2 separate regions of the Homo sapiens genome follow, and region 1 is linked to region 2. The links come from fine-mapping of genetic effects on gene expression. A gene starts in region 2. The other region holds a variant in brackets. All regions are shown on one strand. Distances are between the middles of the regions. Region 1 overlaps TNK2 (tyrosine kinase non receptor 2). Region 2 holds the start of TNK2 (tyrosine kinase non receptor 2).

Region 1 (5,000 bases), 38 kb before region 2:
CCTGGGGGGTGGCGTACTTGGGGTCTGAGGCAAAGCTCTGGGTGGTGGGCATGGTCTTCCCAGGTGAGCTTGAGAGCCGGGGTGGCAGCGGGGAGCTGCCAGGTGGTACCAGGGGGCTGGGTGTCCTCGAGCCTTGAGGGGACAGGGGCTCCCGCGGAGGCACCCGGGGAGGGGAAGCAGGTCCAGGCCACTGGCTGGTCTCCTCCTCGCCCGGGGGGGCTGGAGACAGCTGGACGTGTGGGCGCGTGGGCCGAGGGGGGATGGGTACCCGAGGAGGCACCTGGGGCTTGTCGTCACCCCCCGGGCTGGGAGAGGGGGCCGGGGAGCCGGCCGGAGCCTGCAGTTGCCTCATGCACTCCTGCTGTAGCGCCTGGAAGATCTCTGCGGTCTGTGCGGAGCTGGGCGGCTTGCCCCCACCCTGGGGCGGGAGGAACAGGTTGTCCTCCAGGGGAGGGGGCGGCCGCGCCTGCTCAGGCACAAAGGCGTAGTTGGTCTGGCCCTGGCTGGGCCCGGCAGGGACCCCCGCGCCCACGAGGGTGCTGTTGATGGAGCAGATCTCAAAGTCATCCTCATCCTGGGCCACGTCGTCATAGGCGGGCGGGGGGGGCAGCGGGCGTGCGTCCCAGTCCACCACAGGCGTGGGGTGCAGGGGCCGGGGCAGTGCCCGCGTGGGGCTCTGAGGCGGGGTCTCGTCCAGCAGGGAGCAGGCGTCCATGGCCAGCTGCGCCAGGGAGGGCGCGCAGGGCCGTAGGGCCGGGACCACGGGCTCCTCACCGAAGTCGATGAGCGTGACCTCAGCCCCGCTGCCTCGGCTGGCCTTGGTGCCCGGCACCCGCGCCGAGGGCTTCGCCAGCCACAGCCCTCGGGGCAGGCCTGGCTTCCGCAGGCCCAGCCTCTTGAAGTCGCTGGACAAGGGGTCTTGGTCCTCGCTCACAGGGTCATAGGTTGGTTCTGTGATGGAAAGGGAGAGCCCAACAGGAAGGCAGTCAGGCAGGGTCTGGGACACGAGGGGAGGTGGCACGTGGGAGAGAAAGCCAAGTGTCCCCCAGCAACCCTCCACTCCCAACTCCCCCCGAGGTCTGAGGTCAGCCACCGGCGGCCAGGTTCTCAGCGCACCTCCGACCACTCCATCAGGAGGGCGGAACCTGCTCTGCCCGGCAGCCCCATGTGGGCCGGTGAGCCCCGCCTCGCTCCGTCTAAGCTGCAGCAAGCAACACTGGCTCCTGCCTGACGCTGCCTCCACCAGCACAAGACCCCGGCGGCCCTGCTCCTGCGCCCTGGCGAGTTAGTGAGCCCTCATCCCCGCCCCTGTCACGGCACACCATTAGTGCAGGCACGGAGCCGCCTCCTGCCATCAGGGGCTATAAGGACTATCCTTGGAGAGGACAGTACTCCTGACCAACGGCCACAAAGCCCAGACAGCGCCTGCAGGTCTGGGAGGCAGCGAGGCCAAGGCAGAAGCCAGGGCCACACTCGTGCTCCAGAAGCTCAGACAGGTCTGGGAGGGAGTGAGGCCGAGGCGGAAGCCAGGGCCACACTCGTGAGCAGAAGCCCAGGCTCCGGGGGGCGGGCTCGAGGGGGGGCAGGCATGCTAGGCCAGGGCAGCCGCGGAAGCTCACAGCACACACCCACCCACCTCCCCTCCGGCCCAGCCGCCCAGGCTCTGTACCTTCCAGGAGAGGAGTGAGAGAGAGGGGGCGGGGGCGGGGGCCAAGGCATCGGAAGCAGCCCCACTTACTCTGAGTGAAGAAGGCAGGCTGAGGTGGGCGAGGTGGAGGCTCCCCTGCAAGAAAGGCCATGCGGACAGGGGGAGAGAGACGGAGCAGGACAGAGGACAAAGGAGGGAGACGGCCGGACGAGAGGGCAGAGTGTAGAGAGACGAAGGGAGAGAAGTGAATGGGGGCGAGTGAATGTACAAGCCCCCAGCAAACGGGAGGCCGCAGGCGGCAGGATGAGGAACACGGCGGTCCAGTATGATAGGCAGAGGACCGGGAGATGGAGGAGGCCCCAGGCAGAGCCGGAGCCGTGGGGTGGTTTTGGCTTGGGACAGGAGAGCAGGATTAGGGGGAAGTGAGGAAAGCCAGGATCTGAGCTCGGCCGTGGAAGGAGGGAGGAGGGACGCCGGGGCGGACGGGCCTGCTGCAGACCCAGCCCGAGGAGGCCCACCTCGGCGGATACAGCTGCCTGTCTTCCACCCCACGCCCAGCCGGAGCCAGGGACACAGCTGTCCCGCCTGCTGCCCTGACCCCACTGTCCCCAAAAACAGAACAGCAGCCTTAGGGTGGCCTGTGAAGACAGTGCCCCTTCCTGAGTAGCCGATGAGTTAGGGACACCAGGGAGCAGAGGGGCTCTTACTTTTCACCCCTCCTAGATGCTGGGGGGGCCGGGAGGTGCTCAGTTCCACGCTCAGGAGGTCGGGGGGGTCCATGGGGTTTCCCAGATACAGTCTGTGGGGGAGAGAGCTGGGTCAAGAGAGCAGGGGAAGCGTGTGGAGGGGTGGCAGAATCTCATCAGAGCCCCTTCGTCCTGGAGGAAACCGGGTGTAGTCTTGGGTCTGAAGCACAGGCCTCCCGCCTCCCAGTCCACAGAACCTGACCGCACGTCTCAGCTGGGGGGTGTCCTGGAGAGAAGGCAGAGAAAGGACACCTGACCCCAGGA[T/C]GGAAAGCCTAGGACCTCAGGGACTCCAACTACACCCTACAAGGGCAGAGGTGGTCCTCCACAACCCCCCAGGCCCCCAGCCCACACCAGGCAGCGGCCAGAGGGCAGACACTCCTGTCCCGCAGGCCACGATGGAGGGCCTAAGAACGGGGCATCCCAGCTATGGTGCCCAGCCAGGGTGGGCAGGAGGCACCCTTCTGCCACATGGCCAGGAGGTGCGGGAGAGGCTGGGCCACCTGTCCTGCTCCGGATCCACCCTCCGTCCCTGCACCAACTGTCAGTATCTGAGACTTAGTCACTGGGGCTGATTAAAGCCTGGAGGAATGGGGCTGGGCTGGCCACAGCATGCCAGGAGTGGGGCAGAGGGCACCAGCCTCTCCTGGAGGTGTCTGCAGTCTTTCACCCCAACTCTCAGGCCCTTGCTGGGTTCTTTTTAGGCAAAACACATGGGCTGAGCCCTGTGAGCTTGGGGTTCCAGTGTGTGTGGGCCCGCTGTGTGGGTTCTGGTGTGTGGGGGCCCGCTGTGTGGGTTCTGGTGTGGGGGGACTCGCTGTGTGGGGTTCTGGTGTGTGGGGGCCCGCTGTGTGGGTTCTGGTGTGTGGGGGCCCGCTGTGTGGGGTTCTGGTGTGTGGGGCCCGGTGGGTGAAGGCCCCTGCTTTCCACGCCTCTCAGGGCAGACCAGAGTATCAGAAGTCAGCAGGAGAAGGGCTGCAGAGGCCAGGGGCCTGGAATCCCCCTGCGGCCAGCAGAGAGGCTTGGAGGCCTGGCGCAAGAAGCTTCGGGGGGTGGGGGGTGGCATCCCGGAAGTGACTGATTCTGCGTGTCCTTCCCAGATGCCCCTCGGTGGCCTTATCCTCTTACATAGGAGACAGGGCCTCTCCCAGGTATGGAGTGAGCTCCGTAGAGTACTGTGTGGTGGGGAGGCGGAGCTGCCACCTAACGTTCCCTCTGCAGTCCCCAAGGTCCCCAGTCCCACTCTGGTTCTGGAAAGCAGGCTCACTCCCATGTGGACCTGCATACATCCCCAGGGCCTGAGCCAGCAGGTTCACGTCTCCAGGACTCTGGCACCACCAGCAGGAGAAGGAAAACCACTGCTCGTGTGCAGGGGTCACAGGGTCACAGGGTCACAGGGGGCCACAGGGGGGTCATGGGAGAAGCTCTCCTCCTCAGCAGCTCCCACCGGGTTCCTCCCAAGTTCATTTTCCTAAGGCCCGAGTACCAAGAGGGGTTACAGCTGTGGCTCCGGGGACCTTTCCACCAAACAGGAGTCCATCCTCAGAAGCTCCTGACCCTACTTTCATCTACAGTGAGTGGGAAAGCTTCTCTCAGGACCCCTGCATCTGAGCAGCAAGTGCTAATTCAGAGTGCATTTACAGCCTTCCCCTTATTGGGGGGGTGAACCTGTTTCACAGATGAAGTGTCTCAGAGTTAGGAGATCGGCCCCCCAAAGCTTGAAAATGGCAGGGACAGCATTCCCCTGGAGAACGCTCCCCGGAGAACCCTCCCCTGGAGAACCCTCCCCTGGAGAACATTCCCCTGGAGAACCCTCCCCTGGAGAACCCTCCCCTGGAGAACCCTCCCCTGGAGAACATTCCCCTGGAGAACCCTCCCCTGGAGAACCCTCCCCTGGAGAACACTCCCCTGGAGAACATTCCCCTGGAGAACCCCCACCAGGCTGGGCTTCCTAGGGTTCCACAGCTTCCCGAGAGTAAGGCCAGGGTGAGGAGGGGAGAGTGGCGGGTCGGGGGCTGAAGCCCGGGCGAAAGGGTGAAGAGCAGATTCCGCCCACGCGTGCCGTGCTGAGGGCCCTGGAGTCCCGAGCGGGGCCAGGTCAGCATCCATCCCCGCCCAGTACTCACTCGTCAATCCTGTCCGGGAAGCCCCAGCAGTGGCGGGGGTCACTGTCGCCATGCCCTGTGTGGATGAAGCTGTTCTGCAGGGGCTGGCTGATGTCCTGGGCCGACAGGCCGGCCACGGAGGTCACCACGTTGCGAGGGAAGGGCCCCACACACAGCGTCCGTGTGTTCTGGCCACGCCACCAGTAGTTCTCGGCCCTGCGCGACAGAGATGGCACGGTGAACGCCAGGCGTGGCGGGGCAGCCCCGGCACTGGGACCCTCCTCACACCCTGGCCACTGTGGCAGAAGGGGGATGGAGCTCAGGCCTCAGGACCAGGCTGTGTGCCACCGGCCCTCCTCCCCAACAGCCCCCGTGACCCACCATGCCCCGTACAGGCCTGTTTGCACACGGCCTTACCCACAACTCTCTAGGTGGGTCAGGCAGCTTTCCCTATGGTTTGCAAATAAGGAGGCACGCTGGAAGCTGCTGCAGCAGGCAACATGA
Region 2 (5,469 bases):
GACATTGATTCATACCTTGCACCACGTAACAAAAATTAACCCCAAACGAATCCTAGATCTCAATGTAAAGCCCAAAACTATAAAATGTCTACAAGAAAATACAGGGGAAAACTGTTGGGACTTTGGGTCAGGCAAAGATTTCTTGGACATGACACCAAAAATGCAATCCACAAAGTAACAAATTAGTAAATTAATCAAAATTTACAACTTCTCTTCAAAAACACAGCATTTTGCACTACTGATCATGAGAATTTTTTAGAAGACATTGTTAAGAGGATCAAAATACAAAGCCACAAGCTGGAAAAAAGATTTGTAAATCACATACCTGATAAAAGGCTTATATCCAGAATATATCAAGAACTCTTCAGAACTCAACACGAAAAACCCTACACAATTAAAAATGGGCAAACGATCTGAACAGACACAGCACCAAAGACATACGTATGGCAAATGAGCACATGAGAAGATGCCCGACAACATGAGTCATTAAGGAAATACAAATTAAAATTGTAATGAGATACCACTACAGACATGAGAGTGTCTAAAATTAGAGACTGACCACATCGAGATGTGGACATATCAAAGACATGGACAAACCAGAACTCTCATACACAGTGGATGAGTATATAAAATGTACAACCACTTTGGAAAACAGTCTGGCAGTTTCTTAAAGGTTAAATGTGTACCTACCACATGACCCAGCCATTCCGGTCCTAGGGATTTACCTAAGATAAATAAAAGTGTACATCCACACAAAGACTAACAAACACGTTCACAGCAGCTTTCTCTGAAAACCCATCAACAGGTCAATGGATAAACAGACTTTGGCACACGTGTACAATGACTGTTGATACGCGCAACCACCTGGACAAACTCCAAAATACTTCTGTTGAATGAAAGACGCGATTCCGTTTACAGTAAATGCTGCAAACTCAGACACAGTGACAGAAAGTAGACCAGCCTGTTACCTGGGGTAGGGGATGGCAGAGGAGCGGGGGATGGAGGGGTTCCACAAGAAAACTTCTGGGGACAGGGGAATAAGGGGGATGTTCACTATCTTGAAGGTGGGGGTGGTTTCACGGGTATATACACAGGCCACAACTTATTAAATTGTGTGTTTTAAATATGCTCAGTTTACCATATGTCATTATATCTCAATAAAACTGTTATTTAAAACAAACAAAAAGAAACACTGCATCTTCTAGACGAAGCACAAGGTGGGGGCTAATCCCGGGCTCAGGGGCCAGAGGGAACAGTCTGACCCTTCCTCCCTAACATCTGCCGGGGCTCCGGGGAGGTGGGCACCAGGCTCCAAAGGGCCTGAGGTTTCTTTACTCACGACACTGCAGGGGAAGTCCTGGCCCACCGCAGACACCAAGAAACTGAAACCTAAAGACATTATGTTGCCCAAGGAAGTTACACAGCTTGTAAGCGATATAACCAGATCAAAAGCAATCTGTGTGATGCCAAGGCCTTTCTCCCATTCATCTACCACAAGTTCAAAAACGCCGACCTGAAATAAGTAGGTGAAGATTGTGTGTATGTGTTTAAAACAGACCGTTCTCTCCACTGAAGCCAGACAGTGAGAGCCACTCTGGCCATTCCAGAAGCGTCAGGCACCGTGGGCACAGCAGCTGAACTTCCGGTGCATGAGTGTTTGGGTGGCAGCGCGACAGGCATGGGATGAAGCTGACAGGCGGGTTTGAGTTTGTCTGAGGAGCGGGCTAACCGGCTCCTCCAGCAGCTGCTACCTCCAGCACCACTCCCTCTGCCCCCAGAGGAGAGCACCCAGTCTGGTTCGGGACAGGGGTCTGGGTCCATCTGACTCACAGCCACACCTCGGGCTGGGGCAGAGGAGGGTCCTCTAGCTAAGGCCCTGGGCAAGCAGCAACCCTGCACCCATCCCCACCCAGGGGCAGGGGAAGCAAGCACCTGACAGTGCCAGGTAAGAGGCGAACAGCTCTAGGAGAGTAAGGCCCACAAGCAGCCCGCCAAGCCCCCTGGGGGCACGAGGCGGAATGAGTAGGTCTGGCACTCAGGCCACGAGGGAGTCAACAAGCCAAATACAGCCCCCACCCTTGGCCCCTACAAGCCCTACCTCTAGACTGGGCTGGGAGCTCCTGTCCTGACAGGTGCAGAGCCCATGATACCACAGCGGCCCATCTGCAAACCTCCCCAGGGTGGGGCCACAGAGGCAGCCCAGAGCCCTGGGGTGCAAGTGCACCCTCCTCTCCCGCCCCTCTAACGCTGGGTCGTCCCACCCAGAGACGAGAGGGCTCACCAGTTGCTCTCCCTCCTTCCGCCCACTAATCATCCTTGGCTCTGGGCCCTCAGGGTAAATCAGCTGTGACAGGACGGCGTGGCAGAAGCGGGCCAGGCTCGTGCCGTACCCAAGCCACTAGCTGTCACACTCATCTCAGCTCACGTGACCAACAGGGTTACAAGATAAGGTTCTGTTAATCCCACGCTGCCCTCTTCCCTTCTGTGGGACGTGTTTTGAGGACTTGTGTGTTGACTGCACCATGCAGAGCATATAGCATGGAGGCACCCCTACTGCCATCGGGGGGCAGGTGGAGGGGGGACCGTCCTGCAGCTCCTCCCTGGGGCTACCCCTCTCTTCCCTCTGCACAGACCTGGCAGCCACCCAGACGTCCCGCCTGCTGCCTAGACTCTAAGAAGATGCCCTATCACTCCAATTACCATACACAGTACTGGCGGGGGAGAGGTCCTGCCTTGCCGCTGAAAACTGCACTGCTTCCTCCCTCCAGGGATGAAAGGCCAAAAGAACGAGGGCAGTGTGGAGTCTACGCTCTCGCCAGGGACCTGCAGCCTCTCACTTCCAAGCACACCAACTCCAGCTAACAGGACTGGGCTTCCTTACCTGCCGCCTTCCGCTGCCTCCCCGCAGACACAGCTTCAGCGACGCCCAGGCTGAGACGGCAGAAGAGGTTCCCGCCGGCCGCGGCCTGCCCTCAGGCAGTGGCTCCCAGAGCTCAGCGGTTCCCCGCACTCTTCTGCGCCCGACTCCCCATGCCCCTACATCCTGCGTCCCCTTCAGCCCCGGAGGTACCGTGGGGCCCGGGCCTGCCAGTCACCACCTCCTCCTCCGCCGGCGCCTCCGGGTCCTGAGCCCCTCGCCGGGTCCCTCTCCCTCCTGGGGCTCCTTCCCGTTCAGGTAGGTTTCCTGGACAGCCCGCACCACCTGTCCCTCCTGCACCCCGGGCAGCCAATTCGCCTCTTGCACCCCCAGGCGCCCCTCCCCCGCAGGCCCCCGGGGCCCCACCGGCCGGGCCCTCCCCACCAGCTCGGGGCGGCTTCGGGGCGCCGGGGCCGCTCCCAGGACCACCGCCTCCCGCCCGACGCTCTCCCACTGCCGCTCCCCCAGTTCGCCGGAACTTTCCGGCCCCTCCCTGCGCTCGCGGGGGCCTTCCCCGGACTCGGACGCCGGTTCGGGCTGCTGCAGCAGCCTCCGCGGGCTCCCCTCCCCGCGCTCCTGCACCCCGGCCCGGGCCTCGCCGCGCTCCTGCACTGCGGGGCTGCCTCCGCCCTTCTCCTGGTGCTGCCCGCGGGGCCCCAGCCCCTCCTCCTGCGCCACAGGCCAGCCCGCCGAGCCCGTCCACCACGGCGGGCGCCCCCAGCCCGCGCCGTCCGGCGGCCCCCACACCACCCCCCGGCTGGGCTCGTGGCCGCGGCCGCCGCGCTCCTGCAGCCCCGGGCCCACCCCGCCCTCCTCCTGCACCGCCGGGCCCACCCCGCCCCGCTCCTCCACGCCGAGCTTCAGCCCGCGGAGCTGCTGCGGGCCCCAGCTGAGAACCCCTACGCGCTGCGGCTGCTGCTCCGGCAGCGCAGGGCTCAGCCCGCCGCGCTCCTCCTGCGCGACCCGCCGGGGGCCCCCGACCGGCTCGGCCCAGCGCACTCGCTTGCCCCCCAGAGGCCGCGCGCTCCCACCCCTCCAGATGGTGCTGCCCTCGGCGCCCGCTCACACCGCCCGCCCGCCCCGGCCCTCCCCTCCCGCCCCGGGCCGCCCCCGAGTCCCGCGCCCGCCTCCCCGCCCTCGCCTCCGGGCGTCAACGTCGGCCCGCCGGGCGCCCGCCCCGCGCCGGCCCCCGCAGGTGAGCGCCCGCCCGCCGTCCCTCCTGCCGAGCGCCCCGAGCCCGCCTGCGCCTGCGCCTGCGCCGCCCCGGGGTGGGGGGTGGGGGGGAGTCGGCCCGCCCTCTTAAAGGGCCCGGCCTCATCGCTCCTCCCCCGGCTCCTCCCCCAGCCTCCGGGGCCCTACCCCGCTCTCCCCGACTCCCCCGGGCCCGGCCTGCGCCTTCCTGCGGTGCCGAGGAGCGGTGGCGCCCTGGGTGAAGAAGTCCCGCCGAGTCGAGGGGCGCAATGGAGGAGCGCCGGAACAGGTCTCTCATTCCGAGTAGCTACCGTTGCACTGTGCGAGTGTAAAAGTCACTTCCACCCGGTCTCAGTTGTTCCAACCTCAGTTGAAGTGAGGAGGTTGGACTGGAAGGTTTCTGGGGTCACTCCAGTGAGGCTGGGGTTCTAGTCCCAATCTCACCGTGGCACCCCAAAGGCCCAGAAACCCGGACCATCACCTCTCTTTCCCCGGGGCCAACGGAGCACTCCTGAAGGAGGGAGGGTTTGTCTCAGGCCTGACGATTCCTGATGAGGACTTGGGCAGAAACAGCCCCAGGCAAGCGGACCTTCATTCCTGCACTTGAGCCGTCTCCTCCCTGCCCCCACCCCAGAAGGAGAAAACCCAGCGCTCGGATTCCCAGCGGCGGGGCAGCCTGCAGGCCCTGTTCCCAGCCCACAGACCCATGTCCCAGCCCAAACGGAGGCAGCCCTGGGCAGCGGGCGCGTGGAGCCCAAGGGCTCAGGGCCACTCAGCCCTTGTTACTGTCCCTCATCTAGAAAATGGATGTAATAACAAAACAGTTCACGGTAGGTGGCAAGATCAGACACATCGGAAACTGTGTAGGGCTGGCTCTTTCTGCGCTCACACTGTCCAGCAATGGGCCCCAGGGACTTGGCCAGAGCGCAGTAGGGCAATGAGAAAGGGGTGGCTTCTGGAAACCTACACGAGGCCCAGTCTGGGTGGATTTGGGTGGCGGTCCCTTGCCTGCGAGGTGGGCAGGGCAACTTTCTACTAAATTATCTAACACTGCCAGTAATGGCAGCCCTTCCCCAGGGAGCCAGGAGGCTGGGCCAGGACCACCCCCCTGTCGCCTGGCTTCAGGAAAGAAAGTGGGGAAGACAACAGATTTGGGAGAAGGAAACTGAGGAGGTTTTCTCCCAGTCTCCCTCACGCTGCCTCAGTCATGGCCATTGCTAAGACTCACAGAGCCCAACTGTGCAAGGCCCTGCACTTCGCATTCTTCTCATCCAACCCCATGACAACCCAAGGAGACACATAATATCCCCATTTTACACGTGGCAGAACTGAGGTTCTACATGGCCAAGTGACTTGTTCAG

The links.
Region 1: its variant is fine-mapped to the expression of TNK2 in whole blood (TOPMed, PIP above 0.99).

The regions. Positions count from the first base shown.
Region 1 is chr3:195,867,759-195,872,758 of GRCh38, forward strand. It overlaps TNK2 (tyrosine kinase non receptor 2), which reads right to left. Exons shown (of 16, transcript NM_001382273.1): 10 at 4,518-4,712; 11 at 2,356-2,447; 12 at 1,739-1,783; 13 at 1-951. Among named protein-coding and RNA genes, the nearest start is that of LINC01983, 9.9 kb to the left of the region's middle. The variant T/C (reference allele first, on the strand shown) is at 2,659.
Region 2 is chr3:195,905,604-195,911,072 of GRCh38, forward strand. TNK2 (tyrosine kinase non receptor 2) reads right to left here and starts at 2,948. Exons shown (of 16, transcript NM_001382273.1): 1 at 2,882-2,948. It overlaps TNK2-AS1 (TNK2 antisense RNA 1), which reads left to right and starts at 2,473. Exons shown (of 2, transcript NR_145450.1): 1 at 2,473-3,175; 2 at 4,262-5,469. RefSeq lists enhancers at 1,162-1,211, 1,262-1,491, 4,482-4,531 and silencers at 3,162-3,411, 3,462-3,651, 3,702-4,351.